Homo sapiens: one gene and its partner. The protein of the gene in region 1 purifies or fractionates together with the protein of each later gene. This does not show direct contact. Each region holds a gene or a part of one and is shown in the gene's direction. Other genes may lie near its edges.

Region 1 (3,205 bases):
AAGCTGCCGTGGCATTTGTATACAGATTTTTGTGCAAACATAAATTCTCATCTCCAAGATTTTTTTTTTTTTTTTTTTTTTTTGAGACGGAGTCTCGCTCTGTCGCCCAGGCCGGACTGCGGACTGCAGTGGCGCAATCTCGGCTCACTGCAAGCTCCGCTTCCCGGGTTCACGCCATTCTCCTGCCTCAGCCTCCCGAGTAGCTGGGACTACAGGCGCCCGCCACCGCGCCCGGCTAATTTTTTGTATTTTTAGTAGAGACGGGGTTTCACCTTGTTAGCCAGGATGGTCTCGATCTCCTGACCTCATGATCCACCCGCCTCGGCCTCCCAAAGTGCTGGGATTACAGGCGTGAGCCACCGCGCCCGGCCCTTCCAAGATTTTGATTATGTTTTTCTTTTTTCTTTTCTTACCTTGTGTTTAGATATCCTTTTAGATTTGGATTCTCCTGCTCCTGTCACGACACCAGCACCAACTCCAGTTTCTGTAAGCAATGACTTGTGGGGAGACTTCAGCACTGCCTCCAGGTAATGGGCATAGTGAAACTAGCATACTCTCAATCAGGGTGTAGGAGATATGTACAGTCAATTGAAATCTTTGATCTGGAGAAGCAATGGATATGCAGGTCACATAGAGTCTTTTGGAAGAGTTCTAGTGAAGGAAATATAGTAGTGCTGGGAATGGGGGGACAAAAAAGCTGTAGGATGAGGTTTGAGTGGGATATTTCAGGCCTTTGTAAGTAGAATTGCCATGAAGTGTGGTTTTGGAAATTCTAGGCAGTGATTTCTTAGAAACTATTAAGTAAAGAATGGAGTTGTTATCCTAATATTATGTCTCTGGCTTTCTCTGTTCTCCTGTCTTGCAGCTCTGTTCCAAACCAGGCACCACAGCCATCCAACTGGGTCCAGTTCTGAATGGCATTGGCAGGACATTAAGGACAGACTTGAGGAATAAAAATGACCTTGAGGGCACCAATCTGTGAGGGAAGTTAGGAACCCATTTCCTCCCCAGAACCAGAATGACTGGACAATCTTTTTCATAGCTTCTCCATCACATTCAAGCTGGTTTATGTCACTCCCCTGTGTTGTTACTTGTACAGCCAAGAAAGTATCTGTTATCTCCTGCGTAGTACCAAGGTAGGGGACTAGTGGATCTTATCATAGTTTTGGCTGACTATGCAGGGCTTAAAAGGCCAGCGTCTGTTTGAGGGGGAATGACCTCTAACATCTGTAAAATTTGTCTCATCTTTTAATTTCTTTAACTTATTTCAAAATCATCTCATGACCCTTGTGTGCCTCTTTGTGAAGCCCTATTTAGCAATTTCAGGGGAGTCAAAAACCTTGCAACTTCCTTCTCCACTAACCCAGGACTAAAAATGGACAGGCTGACCTCAGTGTTTACAAATTCAGAATTTTGATAGGGGTAGATATGGAGAAAGACCTATTTCCTGGGTCTCTGCTGTGTAGTCTCCTTCAGGCTTATTGTGCTCAGTGAACATCCAGTGCTGGGTGCAGCTCCATCACCCTCTTGTGTGTTTACATGTCTCTTTCTATGATAAGAGGGTTGTGTTGGTGGCACCTCCACTACTCTTTTCTGTTTGTTGAGTTTGAATTGTGTTAACATCTTTGATCAGTGGGTGTATCTGTAATGAAGGAGGTTCAAGAGGCTGTGCTTTCCAAGTGATAGTCTATAGGAGTGTTTAATTTCTTGCAGCTCCATCTGGTTGCTGCATTTGAAGCATGGCATTAATTTGTATTTGCCCTGTTCTTTGACCTAAAGTTGAAGGGTTTAGAGTTTTTAACCTGATCTGTAGAGCAGAGAGGTTGAAAGCACTTAACTCTTGTTTAGTATCCTCATTGCCTTGCTGCCTGGGTATCTGGCCCCTTTCCATAAACATTTCTTTTCAGTTCATGTAGTTCTTTAATAGAAAGCTGCTATTATGTATATTGTCATTTGTGAAGGAAGTTGGAGAGTCACAGCTTTACTGTGACAGGTTTTGCCCAAGGCTTTGATACCTGTCACCCAGGGTATCTTAAAAGCAAGTTGTTCTCCCACTACTTTCCTTTCCCTCTGCCCTGCCATTCCTATTACAATGCTGTGAAAAAAGTTCTGCTTCTTAGGTGAATGGGTACTTTCTATTTTGTTTCTAAACGAGCAATTTTGAGGATGAAATGGGAAGATATCATTGCTTCCTTTTTGCACCTATTGGGTATGTACACTCTGGCCGAAGGGAGTCCTTATGTTTAGTTTCAAAATATATTACTTTCCTGGATTCTCTTCTTCACTTTTTCTGACTTTGGGTCCATTTTCTTTTCATTGCCTCCTTTTCCAGGCAGCTCTATTCTTGCAGAGCCATAGCAGGACATGTTAAAATTCCAATAGAAAACACTAAAAGGAAAGTCTGTGGAATCACTAGTGACTAAATACTGGGAACCTATTTTCTCAATCTTCCTCCATGTTGTGTTCTTTGTATTCTTGAGATGATAATATATTATGTATTTGAATTCCTGAAAAATGGAAAATGTTTAAGATATATGTATATAAAGTGTATGCTGTATTGGTGCAATAATGGTAATTAAAAATATGAAAAAAGTGTCTCTTTTATCTTTTAATTTGCTTATTTGATTACCTTTTAAATTTAATTGACCAAATATAAGTGGACCAGTAGTTAATAAAGGATATTTATATCACTCTTTATTAAGAAATAAGGCTTTTAAGAAGTTGAGACTAGACCTCTGTGTTCATGGTTCTAAAATGACAGAGCACTCTGTGTAATCAATGAATATTCATTATTTATTTTCTGGTACAGTTAATTTAATTTGCTTCAAATTATCTTCATGATCTAGGCCACCTCTTATATCTTAACTGTAATCAGCAGAAATGAAAGGGATCAGTATAAGAGAAATAACTAAGGTCAGAACCACAGACTTTGGAAACCAGAAAAGGTCTTGGGAGTTCTTGTTCAGTGATTGCCACAGGAGATAAATTAGCTAGATGTGGTTGGTGGTTTACTCCTGTAATTCCAGCACTTTGAGAGGCTAAGGTGGGAAGATTGGTTGAAGCCAGTTCAAGACCAGCCTGGGCAGTATAGCGAGATCTTATCTCTACAAAAAATCTAAAAATTAGCTGGGCATGGCAGCATGTGCCTGTAGTCCTAGCTACTTGGGAGGCCGAGGTGGGAGGGTCACTTGAGCCTGGGAGGACG
Region 2 (3,651 bases), on another chromosome or scaffold:
GCAGCCCTGCAGACCGCACGGTCCCCGCTGCCCTCAGCCTCCTGTGCCTGCAGGTGAAGCAGCTGCGGCTGGAGCGGGAGCGGGAGAAGGCCATGCGCGAGCAGGAGCTGGAGATGCTGCAGCGCGAGAAGGAGGCAGAGCACTTCAAGACATGGGAGGAGCAGGAGGACAACTTCCACCTCCAGCAGGCCAAGCTGCGGTGCGCTGGGGCCTCCCCCTCCCTCCGACCCAGACTTGGAGCCAGGGCCGGGCACTGGCTGTCACTCTGGAAGCCACTGCTCTCCCACCCTTCAGGGTCCCACACGGCACTTCCTGGGACCTTCCCTTCCTGACCCCTTCCCGGGCGGCAAGGCTTCTGTCTCCTGCCCTCCCCTGCTGGGCAGGGTGCAGAGGAGACGGGCCCAGGTGAACGGCACCCCACGCATGCTGGACGCCAGTCCTGCACTGACTGCAGTTGTCCCTCCCACACTCCACCCAGGAGGGTGGCACCCCCATCCGCCTGGTTTACAGACAAGCTGAGGCTCCGGGGTGTCCCTGCTTGCCTTGGGCCCCGTGGCGGGTGACATCAGGCTCCTCCCAGCTCGGGCCTCCCTGGTGACGGGTTCCCTTGGGTTGGACCAGGGCCCGCCTGCAACGCGTACCCCCCTGCAGGCCCAGAACAGAAACCCGGCTCTCTGCCCCGAGTGGTCTGCCTGGGGGAGGAGGTGGTTGCAAGGCAGTGACTACTCTGGTCCCCCAGCCTGCCTCTGCTTCAGCTCCTCCACTCTTCCCCATCACAGCCCACATAGAAGCCGCCATCCTGGGCACATCCCAGAGGCCCTCCAGGAAGCCCCTCCCACCTGGCCCACCTCCGGGTCCACGCTGCTTGCACTTTGTCTGCACTGCTGGCCTGCGCCCTTTGGCTGACCCGGCTCACTCTACCTTATGCCTCCTCCTCCTCCTCCTCCAGGAAGCCTTCCCTGACCACCCCCAACGGGTCAGGCCCCTCCTCGGCTCCCACTGGTGTGGTCACCCCAAGGGCAGGGTCTTTAGCATGGAGGGCACAGCCCAGGCTCTGATGCCACCTTCCCCTGCTCCCCACAGTTCCAAGATCCGCATCCGGGACGGGCGGGCCAAGCCCATCGACCTGCTGGCCAAGTACATCAGCGCTGAGGATGACGATCTGGCCGTGGAGATGCATGAGCCCTACACGTTCCTCAACGGCCTCACCGTGGCCGACATGGAGGACCTGCTGGAGGATATCCAGGTACCCAGCCCCACCCGATGCTCCTCTGACCTGCACCCTCACCCCCACCCCAGCCACACCCGTGTCCTGACCCCTGCCCCCTGCCCCCAGGTCTACATGGAGCTGGAGCAGGGCAAGAACGCCGACTTCTGGCGGGACATGACCACCATCACCGAGGACGAGATCTCCAAGCTCCGCAAGCTGGAGGCCTCGGGCAAGGGGCCAGGTAACGGCGGGCATGGGCCTGGGCTCCAGGGGAGCTGCGGGGGCTACAGTGTTCACCCAGAAGCCTCAGACTTGCTGTGGGGCCTGGTGCTCTCTGCAGGCCTCGGTTTCCCCAACTGGGGCCTCCCCTTCTGGGCCGAGCCACCAGGGGGCAGCAGCGGGCAGTAGGCCCTGGGAGGGATGAGTGGGGCGGGCCTCTGTCTGGGGTGCAGGGCCAGCAGCGTCCAGACCCAGCGTCCCGTTAACGCTGACTCGGCGGTGCCGGCCTTATGGGAGCCACGGGGCTTTCCGCTCAGGTTTCAGTGCTCTCAGTGGCTCTGCCTGTTTGACAGCAAGTCTCGCTCCACCTGGCCTGAAGGCCGTGCAGCCCAGCTTCAGGGCGCTACCTGTCCCGTGCGTCAGTTCGTGCCCCTCCAACCTGATGGGCTTTTAAAATCACGTTTCCCCCCCCTCCGTGTGGTTGCACACACATGGTCACCGGGGATGCTCTAAAGCGTCTACCCTGAGCACTGCGGACATGCGGGCTGGGCCGTTCCCTAGGGTGGGGCCGTCCTGGACACTGCTGGGTGCTGAGCAACGTCCCTGGCCTCCACCCAGGGTCAGGAGCACCCCTAGTCCTGACAACCGCAGATGTCCCCAGACGTTGCCCAGAGTCCCCTGGGGGCAGAATTGCCCTAGATGAGACCCCCCCCCCCCCCGGTCTAAAAGCCAACCACAGCAGCCCTGCCCCCTCCCCGCCAAAATCCACGCCCCAGCGGCTGCTGTAACAGTGCCTGGCTCTCATGGGCCACGCATCCCTGTCGATAGACCCGGTCCTTCCCCTGCCCTCCCTCTCAGGCCTTGGGTGCCATCATGGTGGCCGAGGATCCCAGGAGGCTGGGTCAGTGTCATTTGCAGCCCTCAGCGTGGTCTGTGGCAGGTCCTTCCTAGGAAAGAGCCTGTGGCTTTCCTCTTTTTCAGTGGAGCTTTGTGTTCCCCGGAGGTGGAGTTCACTCAGCCATCCTGTCCCTCCAGTGGTCTCCTCCGTGGGGCACATTCTCCCGTAACCTCAGAGAGGCAGGGCAGTTCTCCAGCATCAGAGGTGTGTCCGTTAAGGGTCTTGGTGTGCTCCTGCTGGTGGCAGCGGGGCTGGGCAAAGACTTCTGGGTGCAGTACATTTTCCTTCAGAAGCCGCAGACCCTACCCACCGGCTGCAGGAAGCCTGGGAGGCGTTTCCAGCGTTGCCCTAGGCCCCGCCCTCTCCTGTAAGACTGGGAGGCGTTTCCAGCGTTGCCCTGGGCCCGGCCTCTCCTATAAGCCTGGGAGGCGTTTCCAGCGTGCCCCACTGCCCTAGGCCCCGGCCTCTCCCATCCCTTCCATGGCCTTCTGCCTCCACCACGTCGCTCAGCCCTCCTTTCCCCTCACGCGTTACAGTTGGGGACCCCAGGTGGCTTTGGTGTCTTCCGAGGGAGTTTGTTTCTGATTCTCCTTTCAACATGGTTTCCAGGAGTAGGGAACCGAGGGGTCTTGACTTTGCTGTCCCCCTGGAGACCCACAGAGCCCCTGTCCTGGATCTTCTTAAATTAATTGGGGTTTTCCTTTTACTTTTCATTTTTCAGAGACAAGGTCTCGCTCTGTCGCCCAGGCGAGAGTTGAGTGGCGCGATCAAGGCTCACTGTAGCCTCGACTTCCTGGGTTCAGGTGATCCTCCCACCTCAGCCTCCCTAGAAGCTGGGACTACAGGCGCTCACCATCACACCCAGCTATTTTATTTTTTGAGAAGGAGTCTCACTCTGTCACCAGGCTGGAGTGCAGTGGTGCGATCTCTGCTCACTGTGACCTCTGCCTCCCAGATTCAAGCGATTCTCCTGCCTCAGCTGCCCAAGTAGCTGGGATTACAGACGCGCGCCATCACGCCCAGCTAATTTTTGTATTTTTAAGGAGACAGGGTTTCACCATGTTGGCCAGGATGGTCTCAATCTCTTGACCTCATGATCCTCCCACCTCAGCCTCCCAAAGTGCTGGGATTACAGAAGTGAGCCACTGTGCCCAGCCACTTCTGAAAATTTTTTGTAGAGATGGGGTCTCACTGTGTTGCCCAGGCTAGTCTTGAACTCCTGGCCTCAAGCAATCCTCCTGCCTCACCTCCAGAAGGGCTAGGATTAAAGGCATGAGTGACTGCATGCTTTTTCTTTTTAATTTTTACAAAATTAAAGTTTTTT

What was found.
Region 2: the proteins of NECAP1 (region 1) and CACTIN purify together in Homo sapiens (affinity purification with mass spectrometry; one large-scale study listed by BioGRID and IntAct). This does not show direct contact.

What each region holds. Positions count from the first base shown.
Region 1 is NC_000012.12:8,095,177-8,098,381, forward strand, and holds the end of NECAP1 (adaptin ear-binding coat-associated protein 1), read left to right. Parts: intron 1-424; coding exon 425-527; intron 528-865; coding exon 866-914; 3' UTR 915-2,705; downstream 2,706-3,205. UniProt on the Homo sapiens protein: Involved in endocytosis.
Region 2 is NC_000019.10:3,616,675-3,620,325, reverse strand, and holds part of CACTIN (splicing factor Cactin), read left to right. Parts: intron 1-53; coding exon 54-199; intron 200-1,083; coding exon 1,084-1,246; intron 1,247-1,336; coding exon 1,337-1,451; intron 1,452-2,410; coding exon of another isoform or gene 2,411-2,496; exon of another isoform or gene 2,497-3,651. UniProt on the Homo sapiens protein: Plays a role in pre-mRNA splicing by facilitating excision of a subset of introns. Required for the splicing of CDCA5/Sororin, a regulator of sister chromatid cohesion. Involved in the regulation of innate immune response.